Linked DNA regions of Homo sapiens. The protein of the gene in region 1 purifies or fractionates together with the protein of each later gene. This does not show direct contact. Each region holds a gene or a part of one and is shown on either strand. Other genes may lie near its edges.

What was found.
Region 2: the proteins of MBNL2 (region 1) and ZC3HAV1L fractionate together in Homo sapiens (co-fractionation; one large-scale study listed by BioGRID). This does not show direct contact.

What each region holds. Positions count from the first base shown.
Region 1 is NC_000013.11:97,344,011-97,347,833, forward strand, and holds part of MBNL2 (muscleblind-like protein 2), read left to right. Parts: intron 1-2,793; coding exon 2,794-3,057; intron 3,058-3,823. UniProt on the Homo sapiens protein: Mediates pre-mRNA alternative splicing regulation. Acts either as activator or repressor of splicing on specific pre-mRNA targets. Inhibits cardiac troponin-T (TNNT2) pre-mRNA exon inclusion but induces insulin receptor (IR) pre-mRNA exon inclusion in muscle.
Region 2 is NC_000007.14:139,029,413-139,033,235, reverse strand, and holds part of ZC3HAV1L (zinc finger CCCH-type antiviral protein 1-like), read left to right. Parts: intron 1-3,823.

The DNA.
Region 1 (3,823 bases):
GGTCAGGCTGGTCTCGAACTCCCAACCTCAGGTGATCCGCCAGCCTCGGCCTCCCAAAGTGCTGGGATTACAGGCGTGAGCCACCGCGCCCAGCCCGTAAATTTAGTTATTAATTGAGATATTTTCTTTAACTTCAATTGTTCTATAACATTCAAGAAAACAAGTTCCTATATATAAAAAACATCGTTCTTAAGTTATGAATCAAACCAAACCTCCTGTACTTTGTTGGGTAAAATTTCTCTTTAATCAGAGCTGTAGAACTCATCTATGTATCTTACTGCTATATCCCTATGATATTCACTACAGCATTTCATAAGGGTGTATAAAGATTCTCATAGATTTTTCAGAGAGCTCCTTTAATTCCATTACTGATTAAAGGTGTTAGGTGATGCATCTGGTTAGGACGTACACAGTGCTTTCTGTTAGTGGGATTATTAGAGAATGTTCTTTCAATGTGCATTTGTTTAAATATTAACCCAATAAACCTTGAAGGCAATAAAATGTGGCTGCCTAATAACCTGTGCAAGTTTTAAAACTCAGAATTTCAAACTGCAAATATTTTAGAAGATATTTATTTTTTCACTTAGTTTCAATCTGGATGCCCAGATGAAGAGAATGGAAACTCTAATTGTTACTATTTTGAAAAGATCCAGCCTACCCTTGTCAATTACTGAATAGACCTTTCACAGGACTGGAAAAGTGTTTTGGGCTCCACCTGCTGGACCCACGGAGCTTTTGTGTTCAGTATGTGACTGTACTTTAGAAAACAAATTAAATCAGTGGAATTGGGAACAAATTGTCCTTCTCAACAGGGCTGGTAGACAAAGACATGTAAAAATGAATCACAATGATTTTAGCAGAGCGGCTTTTGGTTCATTTCAAACCAGGAATGAAGTCAGCTGCACACAAAGCACCTTGGTAGGAGCCTGATGGCTGGTCCACACCTATGATGCTATCAGACAGAAGTCATTCCATTGATGGAGGAAGGCTTGCTCAGAATCCGTGGGAACATCTTAGTGATTTATTTTGCGCATTTTATGAACTAAAGTTAGAATGTTGGCTAATATCCAAAGTAGGAGGAAACAATTAACAATCTGGTGATTTATGCTATCTACCTTCAAGCTGGCCTGGTCACTGGTCAGTGAAACAGTATTTCCTAAGTATGTCTGACTTCCACAATACTTGAATTTCATGTCAGGGGCCCTTCATATAACATCACTAATGATCAGCGTGATGATCATTTACATATCCACTTTGGAATTGGAGCCTAAAAATAAATAACTTACGATTCTACTCATAATTATTTCCTGCTAATATTTATGAGCAGAGAAGAATTATATAAGCAACATGCATATGTTATTTATGCTATTTTATGTTATCTATATGCAGGGCATAATTAAGAATACTCTTCAAATTCTAAAGAAATATTTTTTCATACAGTAAAATCTTGATCCACCAGAATTCTCAGGGGATAGAGAATCCTAGTTACTTGAGATTTCAGGATAATTTAGCATTAAAGAATTTTTAAAATAAACTATTTCCCTCCATTTTTCTTTCTCTATATCTCTTGCCGTATTTCTCTCCTTTTGTCTTTTTTTTCTTTTCTGTGCTGTCAAAAATAGTATAGTGACCTTAAAAATGAAAATTTTGGTGTCTTAGATATTGTTCTTCTGATTTATGATTATGTTATCTTTGTAGAGCAGGAGAGAAGGAGTGGGAAACAGGAGTGTTCAGATTCCCCCCACCCCACCCCACCCCACCCCCTTAGAGAGAGGAGGAACAAGTTTGTCGTCATTTTCTCTGATTCTTTTTGTACAGCTATGACCTGGTAGCTTGATATAGGTGAAATTATCCCTCCACACACACAAAAAAAAACCTATAGCATTGTCAGAATTGTCATACAAGTAGGTGATTGAAGATATAGAGAGAGGTAGATAGATTATAGGTGATTGACAGATTAAATAGATAGATTATAGGTAGGTAAGCAGGTATATAGATAGGTAGGTAACTAGATTAGATAGATGATTAATTAATTGATAGATTTTAGATAGATCAGTAGATGATAGATGATGGATGGCTGGATGGATAGATGATAGATGGATGAATGAATGGCTGGCTGGATGGACGGATAGATAGATGGTAGGTAGGTAGATAGATGATAGATAATATTAGGTTGGTGCAAAAGTAATTGCAGTTTTTACCATTAAAAATAATGATAGATTAACAGATAATAGATGGATGGATGGATGGATGGATGGATGGATAGATGGATGGGTGGATGGATAGATAGATGGATAATAGATAATAGAGGGATAGATTGATAGATGATAGATAATAGATGATGGATGAATGAACAGGTGGATAGATGATTGGATAGATTGATTGATGGTAGATGATAGATGAAGGAATGGATGCATGGATAAATAGATAGATGATAGATATATGGATGGATGGATAGACAGACAGACAGATCGATAGACAGCTGCATAATATGCTACCCAGGGACAATGGAGGCCTTGTTGCTTTTCCTTTGTTATTTTAGCTGAACTGCAGATTTCGTATTATTTTCTCAATATAGATTTTCACCCTAGAAAAGGCGGTAAAACAAAACTCAAATGACTGTGTCAGAGATTGTGGTTACCTGGGCTCCGCATAATCAATCTTTTCTTGTCAGTGGTACATGAGCCACCATTGAAAGCGAGGCAGCCTCCGCTCCTCCCGCGGTGGCCGGGGCCGCAGGGGCGCCTGGGCTCAGGCTTGCCTCTGCAGCGCGGCTCTTCTTCCCTGTCTTAGGTATGCAGGGAGTTCCAGCGAGGAAACTGTGCCCGGGGAGAGACCGACTGCCGCTTTGCACACCCCGCAGACAGCACCATGATCGACACAAGTGACAACACCGTAACCGTTTGTATGGATTACATAAAGGGGCGTTGCATGAGGGAGAAATGCAAATATTTTCACCCTCCTGCACACTTGCAGGCCAAAATCAAAGCTGCGCAGCACCAAGCCAACCAAGCTGCGGTGGCCGCCCAGGCAGCCGCGGCCGCGGCCACAGTCATGGTAAGTGCGGCCGCCCGCCGCCCCTGCACCCCGGCGCCTCTGCGGAGGCCGCTCCGGGCTGGGACTTGGATGTTCTTCCAAACACTCGGGAAACATGGAAGGCTGCTATTCCTGCTGCTCCGCTGCCTAAGTTTTGCTGTTGTTTTCCCCCTTTTTGTTTTGTTTTGTTTTCCCCTCCTGCCCCCCTTCAGCACAATAAGTAAATCCCTCAGGTGCAGGGAAAGTCCTGGGGTCCCTGAGCTCCGTTCCCCCTCCTAGGGTGGCGGAGATTGAGTGTGCTCACTTAGGGTCTTTTTAAGAGAGGCTCAGGGGCCTTGTAATGAACATGAAGGTGGGCACCGCTTCGGAGAGGGGAAAGAAAGGTGCATTTCTGCACCTGAGCACGAGGAGGCACCCAGCTCCTTGGAGCAGCCACGGAGGACATCTGTGGCCTAAGAGAAGCCCAGAGAGTGATTTGGCTTTTCGCTACTCCCATTTTCTCCTCTTCTTTCACTTATTACAAGGGCAATGCTGGTCAGATTCCCCATCTCAATGAGGTTTTATGCAGAATAGCAATGCATGAAACAGATGAAAGTGGAGCCATCCTGGCTGGTGCAGAAAGAAAAAAAGACCTGTGACCTAGGCTTGCTTCCCTGAGTCACCCTACTGTCATTAGAGACCAGCAGTACATCATCATTATCATCGCCTGGGAGCCTGCTCAGAATCTCGGAGAGCCTAACTGTCCCTTAGAGACCAGATGCACCATTATTAGGATCACCTAGAAGCC
Region 2 (3,823 bases), on another chromosome or scaffold:
CAAGAAAACATCAGACTTATATAGTTTTTTTTTTTTTGAGACAGGGTCTTACTCTCTCACACAGGCTGGAAGTACCTCGGCTCACTGTAGCCTCTGCCTCCTGAGTTCAAGTGATTCTCCCACCTCAGTCTCCTGAATAGTTGGGACTACAGGCACGTGCCACCATGCCCAGCTAATTTTTGTACTTTTTGGTAGAGATAGCGTTTCACCATGTTGGCCGGGCTGGTCTTATATGCCTGACCTCAAGTGATCCCTCTGCCTCAGCCTCCTAAAGTGCTGGGATTACAGGCGTGAGCCACTGCGCCTGGCCAGGCTTATATAGTTTCATAGTTGAATTCTATCAAATTTTTGTCTTTATTGAAGTGTAGTTGACAAATAAAAATTTTATATTTACAGTGTACAATGTGGTGTTTTAATATATTTACATTGTGAATTGATTGCAATGATTAAGCTAATTAGCATACCATTACTTTACATGGCTATTATTTTTTGGGTGTGGTAAGGACAGCAATTTTCAGGTATACAGTATGTTATTTTTTTAAATTTTATTTTATTTTTTATTTATTTTATTTTATTTTTATTTTTATTTTATTTTATTTATTTCTTTTTTTTTGAGATGGAGTCTCACTCTATCACCCAGGCTGGAGTGCAGTGGTGAGGTCTCGGCTCACTGCAAGCTCTGCTCCCGGGTTCATGCCATTCTTCTGCCTCAGCCTCCCGACAGGCGCCCACCATGATGCCCAGCTAATTTTTTGTATTTTGTTTAGTAGAGATGGGGTTTCACCTTGTTAGCCAGGATGGTCTCGATCTCCTGACCTCGTGATCCGCCCACCTCAGCCTCCCAGAGTGCTGGGATTATAGGTGTGAGCCACTGTGCCTGGCCATTATGTTATTATTAACTACAGTCACCTTGCCGTACAGTGGATTTCCAGAAATTCATCCTGTTTAATTGAAACTTTGTTCCCTTCGACCTACATATCCCTATTCTCCTTAATTTTAACAAATCTATAAGGAACAGGCTGTTCCTTATATTTGGAGTAGGTGTAGGATCTATTTTCCATGATCTCCAATTCTTGAACCACTATCATACTAATTAAAGTAGTTTATCTTTCATTTTTAAAGTTTATTTACTCTTTTAGAGACATGGTCTCGCTGTGTCACCCAGGCTGGAGTGCAGAGACAGGGTTTTGCCATGTTGCCCAGGCTGGTCATAGCTCACTGCAACCTCGATCTCCTGGGCTCAAGCAATCCTCGCACTTCAGCCTCTCGAGTAGCTGGGACTGCAGGTGTACACCACCGCACCCAGCTACTTTTTTTTGTTTTGTTTTTTTGAGATGGAATCTTGCTCTATCGCCCAGGCTGGAGTGCAGTGGTGTGATCTCAGCTCACTGCAATCTCCACCTCCCTGGTTCAAGCGATTCTCCTGCCTCAGCCTCCCAAGTAGCTGGGATTGCAGGCGCTTGCCACCATACCCAGCTAGTTTTTTGTATTTTGAGTAGAGATGGGGTTTGTCATTTTGGCCAGGCTGGCCTTGAACTCTTGACCTCAAGTGATCCGCCCACCTTGGCCTCCCAAAGTGCTGGGATAACAGGCGTGAGCCATAGCGCCTGGCCCCCAGATACTTTTTTTTGTTTTTGTTTGTTTGTTTTGTAGACAGAGTCTTGCTCTGTCGCCCAGACTGGAGTGCAGTGGCGTGATCTTAGCTCATTGCCACCTCTGCCTCCCAGGTTCAAGCAATTCTCGTGCCTCAGCCTCCCTAGTAGCTGGGACTGCAAGCAAGTGCCACCATGCCTAGTTAATTCGTTGTGTTTTTAGTAGAGACAGGGTTTCACCATGTTGCTCAGGCTGATCTCAAACTCCTGAGCTCAGGCAATCCGCCTGCCTTGGCCTCCCACAGTGTTAGGATTACAGGCATGAGCCACTGTGCCCAGTCCACTTTTTAAATTTTTCTGTAGAGACAGAGTCTTGCTGTGTTGCCTAGGCTGGTCTTGAACTCCTTGGCTCAAGCAATTTGCCATCCTTGGTCTCCCAAAGTGCTAGGAGTACAGCCATGAGCCACTGTGCCTGTCTAATTTTGTTTGTTTGTTTAATCAGTTCATGTCTCCTTTTCCAGATAAGCTTTAGAATCACTTAAATTCCTAAAACTATTTTAAAGGAATTCTTTGAGAAGGGTAGAAATTGCATTAAAGTTACGAATTTATTTTAGAAAATTGGCATCACAATTATAAATAGGATGCTATTTCATTTTAAACCAGGTCATCTGTGTCTTGTAGGATTTCCCATATTTTAGATTTGACTGATTACATTCCTGTAGTACTATTGAACATGTTCCTGTATCCCTCAAATTTTGATCAGATTTAGGATTTATTTCACTTTATTTAATTAATTAATTAATTAATTAATTATTATTATTTTTTGAGATGGAGACTCACTCTGTCGTCCAGCCTGGAGTGCAGTGGCGTGATCTCGGCTCACTGCAACCTCTGCCACCCAGGTTAAGCAATTCTGCCTCAGCCTCCCAAGCAGCTGGGATTACAGGTGCCACCATGACTGGCTAATTTTTGTATTTTTGGTAGAGACGGGGTTTCACCATATTGGCCAGGCTGGTCTTGAACTCCTGACCTTTTGATCCACCCACCTTGGCCTCCCAAAGTGCTAGGATTACAGGTGTGAGCCACCACACCGGGCCTTATTTATTTTTGAAATGGAGTCTCGCTCTGTCGCCCAGGCTGGAGTGCAGTGGCGCAATCTCAGCTCACTGCAACCTCCGCCTCTATTTTATTTTATTTTTAAGACGGAGTCTCGCTGTGTTGCCCAGGCTGGAGTGCAATGGCACAATCTTGGCTCACTGCAACCTCCACCTCCCCGGTTCATGTAATTCTTCTGCCTCAGCCTCCCCAGTAGCTGGAATTACAGGCGTGTGCCATCATGCCTGGCTAACTTTTGTATTTTTAATAGAGTCAGGGTTTCACCGTGTTGGCCAGGCTGTTATGAACTCCTGACCTCAGGTGATCCTTCTGCCTTGGCCTCCCAAAGTGCTGGGATTACAGGTGTGAGGCACCGCGCCCAGCCAGGATTTATTTTATAGCAAGAGTTTTTTTACGTGTGCAGCATTGTTAGGGTGACTCAGCAGCCCATTTGCCTGGGACTGAGGGGTTGCCGGGGATGTCAGACTTTCATAGTAAAACCTGGACAGTTCTATTTCTGTTGCATCACATCAGGAGGCATATAATGTCATCTTTGTGTGAGCGGCCAAGACTGATGCGTGGTTTCAGGGTCAACAGCCTGATCCCATCATTATAAAGTTCCCTATCAATGTGGTCTTGGTGTGTCTGGGATAGACCCAGTTTATATTAGTTGTCCCAGTGTGATTATTAATAGTGCTCCCTTGCAGCCTAAAAATGCCCTCGTCTGGATCATAAATTAGATCTTTGTGCCACCCGTTGAAACTGGTTTCCCTGGAAGCAGAGCCTGAGATAGAGACCCAGGTATGTGTGATTTTTTTGAGGGCGGGCTTTTCAGGAAAACCCAGTGTGGGAGAGAGGGAAGCAGGGTCTAAGGAAGGAAAAGCTACAAGCACATAAGGTCTGGCCTTGACTTCATTCATGGGGAGCTGTGGAACAAAGATCACGTTGAGTCTAGCTTTGAGGCACTCTAGCATTTTTTTAGCTTTATCTAAGTCATTCATTGGCTACAGGCTTTGGGGACAGAGGGCAGTTCAGCTGAGAGTGTAAAGTAAGAGGGGGCAGCTGTGAGTCACAAGCAGCCAGTGCCCACAGCAGCGGGAGTATGGTTAGCACCACTACACTATCATCAGGCTTTC